Regions from separate parts of the Homo sapiens genome. Here region 2 is linked to region 1. A link means that fine-mapping ties the variant in region 1 to the expression of a gene that starts in the linked region. Tissue or cell type: whole blood. Region 1 holds a variant in brackets; the other region holds the start of a gene. All regions are shown on one strand. Distances are from middle to middle.

Region 1 (8,103 bases):
AGAACCAATTTCATAGAGCTTGATGGTACCACAAGCCTGCATCTTAATATTTTCAATTAATCATGTTATACTGTGGAGCGTTTGGCTGTAAGAAAGAGAAAAACCAGTTGTCTGCTTTTACCCGTCACGCGCTGCAAATGCTCAATAGACACATGTGGCTACTGCACTGACAGCACTGCTGTGGGAGCTCCTACAGCAAGAATCTGGGGAGACAACTGCTGTTGTTTTTGTTGAAAAGTATCTTTATTTTGTTCTCTTCGATTACTGAATTATTGGTTTTTTTTTTTCTTCAGTCCTCTCAATATATTATTCTTTTGTCTTCTAAACTCAGTAGCTGCAACTATGGAATATGCTGTCAGTCTAACTGGTGTTCCTTTGTAAACACCCAATCTTGAGCAACCTTTGGTTGCTTCTGTCTCTGCCTTTGACATCTCATCAGAATGTGTCTGGGTGTGTGTGTGTGTGTGTGCACGCGCATGTGTATATATATATATTTTTTTTATTTTTATTTATTTATTTTTTGAGACAGAGTCTCACTCTGTCACCTAGGCTGGAGTGCAGTGGCATCATCCCGGCTCACTGCAACCTCCACCTCCCGGGTTCAAGCGATTTTCCTGCCTCAGCCTCCTGAGTAGCTGGAATTACAGGTGCCCGCCACCAGGCCCAGCTAATTTTTGTATTTTTAGTAGCGGTGGGGTTTCACCATGTTGGCCAGACTGGTCTCGAACTCCTGACCTCAAGTGATCCAGCCTGCCTAGGCCTCCCAAAGTGCTGGGATTACAGGCGTGAGCCATAGTGTCCGGCTAATATTTCTATGTTTTATGCTTGGAGCTCATTCTATTGTTTAAATCTGAGATTTATGTCTTTTATGGATTCTGGAAAATTCCCAGTCATCAACGCTTCAAATATTGCCTCTCTACAAATCTGCTTTATCATTCTGAAATTCTTATCCATCAAATGTTAGAGTTTATAATTCTAATCACTCTGTCATATTTCCATTTTGTCCTTTTTTTGGATACATTCTGGATTTCCTCAGATATATCTTCTAGCTCACCAATTCTCTTTTCAGCTATTACCAATTAACTGTTGAATCCAAGTAGAGAGTATCTTTCAATTAAAATTTTAATTTCTATTAGTTCTACTCAGCAATTTTTCAAATCTTCCTTTTTTTTAATAGCATTTAATTCTTTTTTATTCTTTTATTTTTTGAGACAGGGTCTCACTATCACCCAGGCTGGAGCGCAGTGGCGTGATCATGGCTCACTGCAGCCTCAACCTCGCGGGCTCAGGTGATTCTCTCACCTCAGCCTCCCAGGTCCACCCGGCTAATTTTTTGTATTTTTTATAGAGACAGGGTTTCGCCATGTTGCTCATGTTGGTCTTGAACTCCTGGGCTCAAGTGATCTGTTCGCCTTGGCCTCCCAAAGTGCTGAGATTACAAGTGTGAGCCACTGTGCCTGGCAGCATTTTATTCTTTTCTTTTTGAGATGGAGTTTAGCTCTTGTTGCCCAGGCTGGAGTGCAGTGGCATGATCTTGGCTCACTGCAACCTCTGCCTCCCGGGTTCAAACGATTCTTCTGACTCAGTCTCTCCCGAGTAGCTGGGATTACAGGTGTCTGCCACCACGCCAGGCTAATTTTTTCTATTTTTAGTAGAGATGGGGTTTCACCATGTTGGGCAGGCTGGTCTCGAACTCTTGACCTCAGGTGATCCACCTGCCTCGGCCTCCCAAAGTGTTGGGATTTCAGGCGTGAGCCACCGCACAGGGCCTTTATTCTTTTTTCACATTTGCTGTTCTTTTTACTTTATTTTATAATCTGTATCTGGTATTTACATCCATTAGAGTCTCTAGTTTCCATGAACTAAAGTCTTTGGGAAGGGTTGTATAATCCTGCTGTTTGTTATATGCTACCTTTCATTCACTGCAAAGTATTTCCTTGTATATTTAGTAATTTTAGACCATGAGACATGCCTGATATTCCTGGGCAACCTGGCTGGGCTAAGAATGTATCTTGCCAGAAGGGATCTACATTTGCTTCTGCCAGATGCCGTAGAGTAATCACCAGCTGATGATTAATTTTATGTTAATTTCTTGACCTGGGTAAGAAATGATACTAAATGAATGGTACAACTTGAACCTTAAATTTGTATGAGGGAAGTCCCATGGTTATTTTTTAGGAAGACATCTTCCTTCTAACCCAAAGCCCAGATTTATTTATTTATTTATTTATTTATTTATTTATTTATTTATTGAGATGGAGTCTTGCTCTGTCTCCCAGGCTGGAGTGCCAAGGGGCCATCTAGGCTCACTGCAACCTTCACTGCCTGGGTTCAAGCGATTCTCCTGCCTAGCCTCCCAAGTAGCTGGGACTACAGGCGTGCACCACCATGTCCGGCTAATTTTTTTGTATTTTTAGTAGAGATGGGGTTTCGCCGTGTTGGCCAGGCTGGTCTTGAACTCCTGACCGCAGGTGATCCACCCGCCTTGGCCTCCCAAAGTGCTGGGATACAGGCGTGAGCCACCATACCTGGCCAAGACTTCTCATTTTTAATATATATATTTTTCCAATGTATACCTCAGGCTTTCTAGTAATGGCCCCTACAACATTTGAAAATAATACTTGTAAAGAGACACAAAGAGCCTGCAGCTCATGCATGGTACTATCAGAAGGGATAGGAAGAAGCATATCACAGGCCTGTGTTATAAGAGAATCTGGATAGGCCAGGTGTGGATAACACTGATGTCCCTAGGATTCTTTCACTAATGAGATCATTTGTTGAGTCTAGAATGGAGACACAGTCTATGATATTTTGTATTTGTAAATGCCTAACAAAATACCTTACTTTCATGATGGCCTTTTAAGATAAATAGGTCAAATCAGTGGTTTAAATGATTTAGCCAAGGTTATAGTCAGTAAGGCAAAGCCCAGAATAGAATTCTTATCTGCAAACTAAATTCCATGCCAAAAGAATGTTACCATGGCAAAGCCACCCTCAGGGATATATTCTGCAGCTTTTGTATCTAGAAATCATTTGTAAGTTTCAAAAAGGAATGACTAAATAGGACGCATAAAAATCTAAGCCAAAGCTTCCCAAGTAGTTGTTTGATTCAGGTATGGCACAACAAAGAGCATGTTAGCACATGAGCTCATGCTGAGACTTCCACTGTCCAGTATGGCAGCTGCCAGCACATACAGCCATGTAAATTCTAATATATTAAATTAAATAAACTAAAAAGAAGTGTTCTTCATTTGCCCTAGCCACATTGCAGGCTACTATATGGGACAGTGCTGACACGGAACTATCATTTTCCCTAATTGCAAAGTTTTAGTGGATAGCACTACTCTAGAATATGGATTGATGAAGTAATTTTATTGTTACAGTAGAGTGGAAAGAACATTGGCCTTGAAGCCCGAAAGACCTACTCCCAAATTCTCCATCTGTCACTTATTACCTTTGCGAATCTCGAGCAGATTCCTAAACAGCTCTGAGCCTCTTGTTTTCTCAACCTGTAAGTTGAGGATCAGAAATAAGGTGCTAGAAATACCACTGCTACTCAATAACTCCAGAATTTATAACCTCCCCATAATTCATTGCAATCCCACTGGGGTCTTGTGACTGCCAAAAGGCCCTTGCACAGAATAAAAATACACTGTTCCCAAAAGATTCAAGAGGCTGGACATGGTGGCCCATGCTAGCACTTCGGGAGGCTGAGGCGGGAGAATTGCTTGAGCCCAGGAGTTCAAGACCAGCCTGGGCAACACAGTGAGACCTTGTCTTTTGAAAACAACCACCACCACCACCACCACTACCCCACAAAGATTTAAGAGAATCACCAAGCCTAAGCCCTTAGTCAGTGTAAGAATTTTCTCTTTAAGATTTTATCTTTTTCTTGAGGGGTGGGGTGGGTGTAGATGGGCATGTTTTATAAAGAAAAACTCTTGGCTGGGCGCGGTGGCTCACTCCTGTAATCCCAGCACTTTGGAAGGCCAAGGCAGGTGGATCACGAGGTCAGGAGATCGAGACCATCCTAGCTAACACGGTGAAACCCCGTCTCTACTAAAAATAGAAAAAATTAGCCGGGCGTGGTGGTGGGCGCCTGTAGTCCCAGCTACTCGGGAGGCTGAGGCAGGAGAATGGCGTGAACCTGGGAGGCAGAGCTTGCAGTGAGCCAAGATCATGCCACTGCACTCCAGCCTGGGTGACAGAGCAAGGCTCCGTCTCAAAAAAAAAAAAAAAGAAAAACTCTTAAAAATAAATAAAACAAATAACTTAGAACTGAAAAAAAGTTATGGTTCACTGTTCTAGTACATTAACTCCAAAAATTAATTTGAATGAAAGAAGTTGGATATGAAGGTGTCACTTGAGTTAAATGGGTCAGGTGTCTTGATGGTATTTCCCACAAGAGAATGGCAGAAGTGCAGCTATAGAATCAGGTATAATTACCTGTATGCATAATCAGATACTAACTTTTTATTTAAAGAACAAATCCCTAAACAACTTAATAGCTCGCTGACCTGACAAGACTATTTTCCACTTTTAAGACTATGTAGACAAAACACACACTCGAGAGGGCTTAACACTCACAAAATCATTTTCTGTTGTCTTATCACTTCTCCCCAATACAGCTATTCCTTTAAATACTTTCCCTAA[T/C]GAAATGACCTGGTTAAGTGAGTTTTCTGTTCAACTAAGAAAACTTTTGTTTCAATCAGTTGAAAATTTTCTAAAGTAAAATGCATTAATGCACTTTCTCCCCAAGAATGTTCTAGTTAACATAATAAATACTCCTGATGATTTTAGGTCTCACTATAACAATTTAACCTATGATACTACAGTGGAGTTAAAGTTATAAAATATTGACATTTTAATGCCGACCCCAGGTTATTCTCTGGATATCTGCTTGATTTTCAGAAAATAAAACCTAGTATTAGCTTGTTTTCTTATAATTTGCCTTCATTTCTTCCACACACGAACTATAAAAATATTTCCAGACAACTGAAGCTCTAATTAGTTAGCTTCTGGTTACTCATGGTTCAATTACATTTGTGTTATGTCACACTTTCAATTTCACAGGACTTTTGCCTTGTGAAAAAAATATAATACAATTCATCTCAGGTTTATGCTAAATGGTAACTGGGTCCGGATAACTTTCCCTACTGACTACTTTAATAATCAAACCACTTAGGAGTGATGGCTAGATTAAGTTTCCAGGCAGTAAAGAACAGAATTAAGCCTATTTCACTTAAAAAAAAATTGGATCCATATTCATTTGCAGAATTTCTCCCACCCTCTTTTCATTTTTTGAGTCAGGGTCTCGCTTGTTGCCCAGGCTGGAGTGCAGTGGCGCAATCATGGCTCACTGCAGCCTGGACAGCCTCCTGGGTTCAAGCGACTTTCCCACCTCAGCCTCCTGGGTAGCTGGGACTACAAGTGTGTGACACCACACCTGGCTAATTTTTCTATTTTTTTGTGGAGTGGGGGTTTTGACATGTTGCCCAGGCTGGTCTCAAACTCCTGGGCTCAAGCAATCTGCTTGCCTCGGTCTCCCAAAATCGTGGGATTGCAGGTGTTGAGCCACTTTGCCCAGCCGAATTTTCCCTTTAATGGAATATTCAGTACAAAGAAAAGAGCAATCTGAAATAATTACATTGTTAACATTAGTTTAAATAAATCCATCTGAACTTACAGCTATTACAAAGCATGTCTAATATGTCCACAGAATTTAAAATCTGAGAGGTAATTACCTGGACAAATAGTTTACTGAGAAGTCAAAAGATAGAACCTATTTCACTTATACTTCAAAGTGTGCTACGGAAAAGAACTTGGGGGTTTCTAGCTTTAAAATAGGCCTTGTTACTTCTCATTCAGGGAATTAAGAGGTGTATAATTTTTAGTAACTTTTTCTATTTTATACTGAAGACATCCCCCAAGACCAATTACCCCCCCGCCAAGTGAAATTCAAACACATTAACTTTTACTTTTTAAGTTAGAAGCAACATTTCTCCAACTATATCCTTAGATGCCAATTAGAGCACAATCATTGTTACCATAACCAGTTTTCATATCCCTATAGTCAATGTCCAACAAACTGTCCTCAAACACCCATACCTTCAATATCCATACTAATACACTGGAATCAAGTATATTTTTTAGTACTGTAGTTTCTTGGAAGGGCCACTCTAGCTTTGCTGACTACATCCAATCGTTATTAGAGATTGTAAAAATGCCTGAAAGAACCCTGGACTAAAAAGCAGAAGAATAGTCATAATCCTAACTCTCCAACAGGGTAATAGTTATGCATCTCTGAGTCTCAGTTGACTTAACTGCCTGCTTACACCACATAGGTAACTGTATCGTTAACATTAAAGCACCACAGCTCTTGGCTCAGTGCTGGTAACCAGTAGACACTCAATTAAATAAACAGATAGAAAAACCTTACTTAGAAACATATTCAGACAAAATAAAGTAGAAAAAGTAATAAATATCTTAAAAAAAAAAACCCATCACCACTATTCTGGGCAAAAATAATATTTTCTGGCCGGGCGTGGTGGCTCATGCCTATAATCCCAGCATTTTGGGAGGCCGAGGCAGGCAGATCACAAGGTCAGGAGATCAAGACCATCCTGGCTAACACGGTGAAACCCCTTCTCTACCAAAAATACAAAAAAATTAGCCAGGCGTGGTGGCGGGTGCCTGTAGTCCCAGCTACTTGGGAGGCCGAGCCAGGAGAAGGGCATGAATCCGGGAGGCAGAGCTTGCATGAGCCTAGATCACACCACTGCACTCCAGCCTGGGCAACAGAGCAAGACTCCGTCTCAAAAAAAAGAAAATAATAATAGTAATAATAATACTTTCTTTGTGGAAAGAATTATCTGTATCTGTTCCCATCCTGTGTGTCCCAAACTAAGTTCTGTTGCTTAGGGACATGGGCAGCTGATAGTCCACAGCTGCAAAAAAACAAAGGCATAAACCTTATTTTAATAAACCGACAACAGAAATGTAGTGCTATTAAATGAAATAGTAAACTAAATTATATACAAAAGAATGTTTCCAGTTTCAGAGCCCAGTTTATTTATTTATTTTTTTGAGACACAGTCTCATTCTGTTGCCCAGGCTGGAGTACAGTGGCGCGATCTCAGCTCACTGCAACCTCCACCTCCCAGGTTCAAGTGATTACAGGCGCCTGCCACCAAGCCCGGCTAATTTTTTTCTGTATTTTTAGTAGATACGGGGTTTCACCATGTTGGCCTGGCTGGTCTCGAACTCCTGACCTCAAGTGATCTGCCCTCCTCGGCCTCCCAAAGTGCTGGGATTACAGGCATGAGCCACCACCTCTGGCCTCAGAGCCCAGTTTAAAAGGTTTGATCTTTCCAACAGACTCATTTATAATCATTAAGTAGAGACCATATTTTGTTTTGTAATTTGAAACTTCCTAAATAATGGATTGATAGAAACTAAAGTCACTCAATTTTAAATGTAATAACTATAATAAAACAGATATACTCACAGCTTGCATTTCTATACAGAAGAAATGGTTCATGGAGCTGAAATTCCAAATCTTTATTCACTGGTTCAACTAGATTGTGCATATTTAGTCGATTCACAATGGTAAAACCATGGTAAGGGGAAGCTGACCTTAGATTTAATAGAAGAAAAAAAAATATGTAGTTACCATTTAATCTGTAGAAATGTTATCTACTATGTACTTTATTTTCATTTCAAAAAAGAATGCATTAGAACATTATACAATATTATCAGCACTTACATCTGTAAACAAAAAATTTAAGTCAGATCATACTCCTCCTCTGACGAGAAGTCTCCAAAGACAGTCTCTCAGAGTAAAGGCCAAAGTCCTTACTGAGGCCACCAAGGCCCCACCTGATATACTCCCCACTCTGACTTCATTTCCTATGGCTCTTCTCCAGCTCCTACTCTCCAGCCACACCGGGCTCCTTGCCACTCTCTCTGCGTGTGTGCTTCTACCTAAAAACCTCTTCCTGGATTACTGCCCCAGAAGCTGCACAGCTATCTCATCTCCTCCAAGCCTTTGTTCAGATGTCACCTTTTTCATGAGGCCTACTTGAACTATCCTTTTTAATGCTC
Region 2 (8,103 bases), 82 kb before region 1:
TTTTGCATATTTTAAACATATACATACACACACACAGTCACTGTATTTTACATATCCTTTTTTTCTTTTGCAAATGGATATTTTTTGAGTTCAGTGAGCTTCCCTCTCCAAGACATTACAATGTAAACATGGTGTAACTCTCGGACACCACAGTATGTTTCCGGAGGGGTAACGGCGGTGAGGAAATCAGACTTTGCCTAACAAAGAACTAGGAGACACACTTGACATTCCACTCTTTTGGAGCACCCTACATTTGTAAATCTTATTTCTCTCCAAGTGCCTTTCAGACTGACTAATATCCACCGCGGCTGTACCTGGCCTTCCCTTTCACCTTTTTCACCATTCTCCAGCCTGGCACAGACTGCTTGCCCAAGAGGCATTCTTTTTTTTTTTTGAGAAGAAGTTTCAATTTTGTTGCCCAGGCCAGAGTGCAATGGTGCAATCTCAGCTCACCGCAACTTCTGCCTCCCGGGTTCAAGTGATTCTCCTGCCTCAGCCTCCTGAGTAGCTGGGATTACAGGCGCCCGCCACCACGTCCAGCTAATTTTTTGTATTTTTAGTAGGGACAGGGTTTCACCATGTTGGCCAAGCTGGTCTCGATCTCCTGACCTTCAGGTGATCCACTCGCCTACACCTCCCAAAGTGCTGGGATTAAAGGGATGAGTCACTGCGCCTGGCCGAAACATTATTTATTTTTGGAGACAGGGTCTTGCTAATGTTACCCAGGCTGGTCTTGAACTCCTGGCCTCAAGCGAACCTTCTGCCTTGGCCTCCCAAAGTGCTGGCATACATGTAACACCATGCCCAACTATTTTTCTTTTCTTGGCCTTTCTTTCTTTCTCTCTCTCTCTCTTTCTTTCTTTTGAGACACAGTCTCACTCTGTCACCCATGCTGCAGTGTGTGGCATGTTCAAGGCTCACTACAGCCTCAACTTCCTGGGCTCAAGTGATCCTCTGCCTCAGCCTCCCATGTAGCTGGGACTACAGGTACACATCACCACACCTAGCCAATTAAAAAAAATGTTTGGCCGGGGGCAGTGGTTCACACTCGTAATCCCAGCACTTCGGGAGGCCGAGGTGGGTGGATCACCTGAGGTCAAGAGACCAGCCTGGCCAAGATGGTGAAACCCCATCTCTACTAAAAATACAAAAATTAGCCGGTGCGGTGGCGGATGCCTGTAGTCCCAGCTACTCAGGAGGCTAGGGCAGGAGAATCAGTTGAACCTGGGAGGCAGAGGTTGCAGTGAGCCAAGATTGTGCTGCTGCACTCTAGCCTGGGCGATAGAGCAAGACTCCATCTCAAAAAAAAAATTTTTTTTTTAAGCTATGGGGTCTCACTGTGTTGCCCAGGTTGGTCTGGAACTCCTGGGCTCAAGCAATCCTCCCACCTTGGCCTCCCAAAGTGCTGTGATTACAGGCATGAACCACCATGCCCTGCCAAGAAGCATTCCTGACAGCATGAGCCCCAACCAGACAGTACGGAATGGCCACCAATTCCCAGCCTGGGCAAGTAACTTAACACACTAGCCTCAGTGTTCCCGTCTATAAAATGTGAATACAACACAATCTATCTCACAGGGTTATTCTCAGGATGCAACAAACGATGATGCTGTGTCATACCAGATACCTACTTGGCAGCTCAGGAACCCTGTAAACATCTGCATGTTTTATCTAGCCCTGAAAGATGCTCAGATGTGCAATACTACTTAGTTGGGTAATTGCTGCCTCTCTCCAGCTAGACCTCAGACCCCCTGAAACGGCCAAAGGTAGCAGGTCCAACAGTACCAAATAAGCAATACAAGGCCTGCAGAGCTACCGTGTGCCAGGCTGGTGAAAGGGGAGCTGAGAGTAAGCCAGGTCCCTGCCCAGGCAGGGGATACCCCACATAAGTGGTAAGACTGACACAAACCCAGGAGAGCTAACAGGTCCAAAGTGTGCAAGGCAGTGGGTGGGGGAAGGGCTTTGAAAGACATCTAATCCCTTCTGAGAACAGGGTGTCTTAGAGGCACAAAGGGTGAATGCGTATCCACCCAGAAAGGTGAACAGATTTACTTCTTAATAATATATCCTGAATGAAATTGGCCAGAAGCCAGAATCTTGTCTGTCTGAAACAGAGCTTGTTTGGGAAGGTCCCGAGAAATCATCCATCACGCAGCCCTCACAACCCTGTCATGAGCCCGGAGCACTGCTGGCACTGTGGCCTCAAAGCAGCCTCCAAGTAGAGCACTGGAGTCCTTGAAACCACCCAGCGTGGTTAAGTGCCATTACTGTCCCCGCTTTACAGAGCGGGAAGCAGGCTCTGAAGTAATTCACTGACTGACCCCCTCACCCACCCCACTGGACACCTCCAGCTGCATGCACGGTGGCCCTCATTAATTATCCCTGTCTCCGCTACAGAGGAGGCTCCTTGGGTGTCCACCTTCTGGGCCAAAAGGGCTGGCCAGGGAAGGATCTTGGGGCCTAGGCACGCCAGCTCCTGCCTGGGAGATACAGCACCTGGTGGCTGGCCCTGCCCCAGGACGTCACTCCCGGCGCTAGGGCCCTGGAACTCCGTCCTTCCGGCGCTCAGCCTTCTCAGTCTCCTTGCCCTCCGCCTCCTCCCGCCCCAGGTCAAATCTTAGACCTCCTTTTCACAATGGATCCCAGGGTTCTGCACCCACGTGCCACCGCCCTCCTCCCCTCTTCCCCCAATCAGCCCCGCCGCTGCCTGGCGTCTCAGCAGCCCCCTGCTCCAAACTCGGACCCAACCCAGGGGTGGCAGGAGACAGGGGTAGGGGAGCGTAGTCTGAGGTGGGGAGAAGGCCGGGCCCCCGAGTCTCCTGCAAGAGGAATTAAAAACAGGGTCTCTAGAGTCGGACTGCTGGGGCTCAAATCAGATCTCCCTGTGTGTAACTTTGGGTAGCTGACTAACTCGGAGCCTCCGTTTCCCCATCTGGAAGGGGGAACACTCCCGGCGGCGCCCACACAGCCAGGTGGTGGAGAGGGTTAAGAGGGCCGCGTTCTGTAGAACAGCAGTAATGGTGGCCTTCCCGGCATCACCCTAGAGGGTACTTGGCGAGTCGCGAGCCCATCCCCCGCGCCACCATGCAGCTGCGCGGCCGGCGATCCGCGTGGGGAAGAGCCGGCCTGAGGCGCACGGAGGACCAGAGGCCCACGCGGCCGAGCCCGGGCGTAGGGCGAGTGTGCGGCGCAGCGGAAGCCGCCTGCAGCCCGGGGCCCTGCGAGGCGCGCGTCTCCGCCCTCCGACGGCGCCCGGGCCACCTTCCTCGTCTAGGCATCTCGCAGCGCGACCCAGAGCCCGCGGCGACTCTGGCCGCCGCAGACGCCCCCCGCCCCGCCCGAGCCGCGTCCCCGGCCGGCGCCGCGCACTCACCCAGAGCCCGCCGCAGTGGTGGCCTGGATGGAGCTGATACGTAGGCGGTTGGCCGTGTCCTTCAAGGCCTGCAGCTTCTGCTGGTCAGGCTTGTGGTAGCTCTCCATGGTGCGGCAGGCGGGGACCGGGCGCACACGCGGACACACAGAGATAGCGGCTGCTCCCGCGGCGACAGGCGGCTGCCGAGGCCGGGCGCGGGGCGGGGGCGCGTTAAGTCGCCGGGCGGGGCGGGGCGGGGATGGGAGAGGCGGGGCAGGGGGAGGAGGCGGGGCTCGGATCACCCCAGGCCTTCAGCCCCGCCCCGCCTGGGGCCGCCTCCTGCCCGCTCCCCTCCCCTAGGCGCTGGGCCGCTGCGGACTGCGAGGTTAGCAGTTAACCACACACACCAATAATAATAACATAACGAACAACTCAGGATTCGAGTCTGGGCTCCTGACTCGAAAGCCTCTCAGTCTCCCTCCTCCACACAGTCCTCCGTGGACTTGTCACGGCGAATCCCATTTTAGAGATGGACAAACTGAGGCTTGGCAAGGGCAATCAAGGTCACAAGGCTGGTGGGTGCCAGGCTTGGCCCCAGCCGACCAACCCCAGGCCCAAGAGACTGCAGGACTTAATTTTGAGACTGAGTTTCGCTGTTGTTGCCCAGGCTGGAGTGCAATGGCATGATCTTGGCTCACCACAACCTCCGCCTCCTGAGTTCAAGCAATTCTCCTGCCTCAGCCTCCCTAGTAGCTGGGATTACAAGCATGCGCCACCACACCTAGCTAATTTTGTATTTTTAGTAGAGACGGGGTTTCTCCATGTTGGTCAGGCTGATCTTGAACTCCCGACCTCAGGTGATCCGCCTCGGCCTCCCAAAGTGCTGGGGTTACAGGGGTGAGCCACCGCACCAGGCCCTATTTCTTTTTTCTAATAATTAAAAAACTTGTTTTTTCTTTGAGACGGGGTCACCCATGGTCACCCAGGCTGGAATGCAGTGGAGTGATTACAGCTGCCTGAAGCCTCAGCCTCCTGGGCTCAAGTGATCCTTCTGCCTCAGCCTCAAAAGTAGCTGGGACCATAGGTACACACTACCACGCCCGGCTAATTTTTGTATGTTTTGTAGAGATGGGGTTTTGCCACTTTACCCAGGCAGGTCTTGAACTCCTAGGCTCAAGCCATCTGCCCTCCTCTGCCTCCCAAAGTGCCGGATTATAGGTATGAGCCACCATGCCCAGCCACTCAGGGCTTTAGAGCCCTGCACAGGGGATGGGGATTATTGAAAATGAGAATAGGATAGTGGTAGCCATGACAATGCCAGGTGATGATAACTGAGAAATTACTAGGGGAAGATCCTTTACAAATTATTAGGGCCTAGAAACACTACTGACTTTTAGGGAGATTATTGGGTTTGCTTCCAGGTCTGTAGGGACAGGGGCACCCACCACTACTGTTATCAGACCCCATGGTTCCCAGAGGTATGAAGCTCCCCAGAGTGGGATTAGGGAGGGGACTTTCATCACAGACACTGTTTCATTCAATCTGCCCACCACACTTGGCCAGTGAGGTACATACTGCCTACAATGCCTATTTTACAGAGGAAGAAGCTCCATTTGACAGAGGAAAGATAAAGGCAAGACCCTCAAACGGATGGCTGGGCAGGGAGCTAAAACCCTGAGAGATCCAAGAGGCACCAGTGGCCGCCCTGTGTCCTCTGTGTCCTCCCTGCATTGCCCATACTCAGAGAGCTCTGGCTCATGAGGCGATTGACTGAATTTGAGTGAGTCCCCCAGCTCGCCTCCAGGTGCTCCTCTGCTGGCCTGACCCCCAGATGCCCAATCAGACCCTAAGTATGGCATCCCATAGCACCTGGCTCCTGCTGGCCCAGCCCGCAGAGGCTGGCCCTATGGTGTCTGGCTGGTGAGGGCTATGGGCTAGGATTGGAGGGGGGCCCCACAGTGTGCCACCCTCAGATGCCTGGCAGGTGCCACCTCTGCCCTCAAGCTGCTCACTGTCTGGAAAAAGGGCAAACCCTTGAAACCCTTTGAAAGCTCTGTGCCTTCCAACTCTGTGGCCCTTAGAGCAGTGGCTCCCTAAGGGAGTGGACTCCATTTCCCCATCTGCCTAATGGGACTCATCCTTATCACTCTGGTCTCTGACAATGGCACAGAACTCACCATGGCTCTGGGGACCTAGGAGTAATGGAAAGAAAATTGTCCCCTCCCCACCACCTGGAGCTCCAGGGACCTCAGGGAGGCTCTCTCTCCTCCTGGTGTTCCACATGAATGGGGCCTGTGATACTATGATATGCATATACAGGCCCCTGGCTTAGAACTGCCCCCAACCCTTGTTATACCACTGGGGTGCTTTAGACCTCAGGAGCAGACCCCAGAAACAGAGTCTCTCAGGCCTTCTCCTACCTTCCTTTCACCTGCTCCTTTCTCTCCCCATGGCAGGATCTTCTCCTGCCGGTCTGTCTTGGAGCTGGCCATAAGTAAGTTCTCTCACCTACCTCGTGTAATTGTAGGTCATTAGACCCCCATGAGAAGGGGTTCTGTCCCATACCCATGAGGAGGGAAGACCAGAGTGGGTGCAGAGTGATAAGGATGAGTCCCGTTAGGCAGATGGGGAAATTGAGGCCACTCCCTTAGGGAGCCACTGTCCTAAGGGCCACAGAGTTGGATGGCACAGAGTTTTCAAAAGGTTTCAAGAGTCTGCCCTTTTACCAGACAGTGAGCTTCACAGAGAGGTCAAGAAGAGTCAGGACACACAGGTCTTGCGGGGTTTCCCCACTCAGTCAGTTAGTATTAGATCATATACTTTTGGTCTAATCACATTTCCACAAGGTTGTCAATCATGTCTGTCCAATGAAATGTCCATGAAAGGCTCAAGAGGACAGGGTTCAGGAGCTTCTGGACAGCGGAACACGTGGAGGCTCACAGGAAGGTGAACAAGAACTCATCCACGTGCTGGGAGGGTGGAACATTCCAGCTCCATGGAGACAATGGCTCCTTCACTAGGGACCTTTCCAGGCCTCCGCCTATGTATCTCTTTGCCTAACTGTTTCTTTGTCTCCTTTAAAATATCCTTTGTAACTAACCGATAAATGTGCTTTCCTGAGTTTTGAGAGCTGCGCTAGCAAATTAATTGAACCCAAAGAGGGAGTGGTGGGAACCCCAACTTGAAGCTGGTCAGTCCCAATCTTGCGACTCATGGGAAGGAGGAGGTGCTCTTGGGGGACTGAATCCTTAACCTGTGGTTTCTGAGGCTATCTCCAGGTAATTAGCATCAGAATGGAATAGAGTTGGAGGACACCCAGCTGGTGTTGCTGCAGAATTGGTTGCTTGCTTGGTGCATGGGGAGAAACCCCCACACATTTGATCACAGGAGTCTTTTGTGTTAATTGTTGTGGTGTGAGAACAGAGGAAAAACAGAGTTTGAGTGTTTTCCCTTTCACAGGGCCCAAGGGTTCAGCCTTATTTCAAGAGCTCTTGGTCTTCCTGAAGGTCAGCTTCAGAACCAGAATCCTAGGCTAGCTGGAGGTGTTGCTAGCACCCAGTTTGTCCAGGGTGGTTCCCTTGTCCCCAGGTCCCAGGGTCTTTATTCGAACCCTCACGCCTCAGAAGTCACATGGCACTTGGAAGAAAGCCCTGGGATCCTGTCTGGCTTCCAGCTAACATCTGGCTCCCTGCTGCCCTCACACCCCATCCTCTCTCAGCCTCCTGTTCACCCTCCCCATGGCTGCCAGAGAAGTGTTCCTCCCCAGCTTAACTCCCATGTTGTTCTTCCTCCACCCTTTGGATATAATTCAGGTCCCCCAGCCCTACCCATCTCAGCCACACTGACCTCGCATTCCTTAAAAAATACCAAGCCCACTCCCTCCTAGAGGTTTTGCACAGGCTGCTCCCTGAGCCAGCAGAGCCCTTCCTGAGGCTCCTCACATGGCCTGGATCTAGAGCCATGCTGCCCATCACACTGCCTGTCTTGGTCTCTGCAGGGCTCTCTGCCTATCTGCATGATCTTTGGTCAGCTCCCGGAGAGCCGGAATACAATCTCTTGTCCCTGGCTCTATCCGCAGGGACTACAACTGGGTCTCATATACAATAGGGGCTCAATGAATGCCTGCAGAATGAAAGCATGAATGTCAAGTGATGTGCCTGAGGACACAGAGTCAGCAAGTGCCAGGGCTGCACCCAAGCCAAGAGGGCATCAGGGAGGCCTCAGGGGAGGGAATCTGGCCATTCAGACTGGTGTCCTTCATTCCGGCCTTTCCAGAAACCGAGACACAAAGGTGCTCTGTTGGAGGGTAGGAAGTGGCAGAAATGTCCTACTGCCGGCATCAGGTGCCAGCAGAGGCCACAGTGACCTGAGAGCAGAGCCACATTCTGGAATCTGAGCTGTCCCCCAGGACCCGTGCAGCACTAGGGAGAAGGTCACCCTTAGAGGAGCCAGAACAGTGTGAGTCCCCACGTAAGAGTCCCCCACAGCCACTCCCCAGGGATCTCCAGTATCACTAAAAGGGACCTGAGGGGGGTTGGGGTCCTGAGGGGTGCCATGCCACCCAGTATTGTTCCTGGGCAATGGCTTTGATCACCAAGGCAGTGCTGATGGATTGTACTGGCTGCCTAGAGTGGAATGTGAAGCAGAGAGTTCTGAATTGCCCTTCAGCCTGAAATGCCAGGACCGGTCTAGCCATACTGGGCAGGGGCACCTTGCATAAGAGACTGGCAGTGTCAGGAAGTCATGTCCCA

What was found. PIP is the estimated chance that this variant, and not a neighbour inherited with it, causes the effect.
Region 2: TKT starts here. The variant in region 1 is fine-mapped to the expression of TKT in whole blood (INTERVAL, PIP above 0.99).

Annotation. Positions count from the first base shown.
Region 1 is chr3:53,334,637-53,342,739 of GRCh38, forward strand. DCP1A (decapping mRNA 1A) reads right to left here. Exons shown (of 10, transcript NM_018403.7): 3 at 7,508-7,635. Among named protein-coding and RNA genes, the nearest start is that of SNORD38C, 5.6 kb to the left of the region's middle. The variant T/C (reference allele first, on the strand shown) is at 4,654.
Region 2 is chr3:53,252,463-53,260,565 of GRCh38, forward strand. It overlaps TKT (transketolase), which reads right to left and starts at 3,560. Exons shown (of 14, transcript NM_001064.4): 1 at 3,374-3,560. The coding sequence starts at 3,480. RefSeq lists silencers at 3,157-3,846, 6,111-6,405 and an enhancer at 6,111-6,405.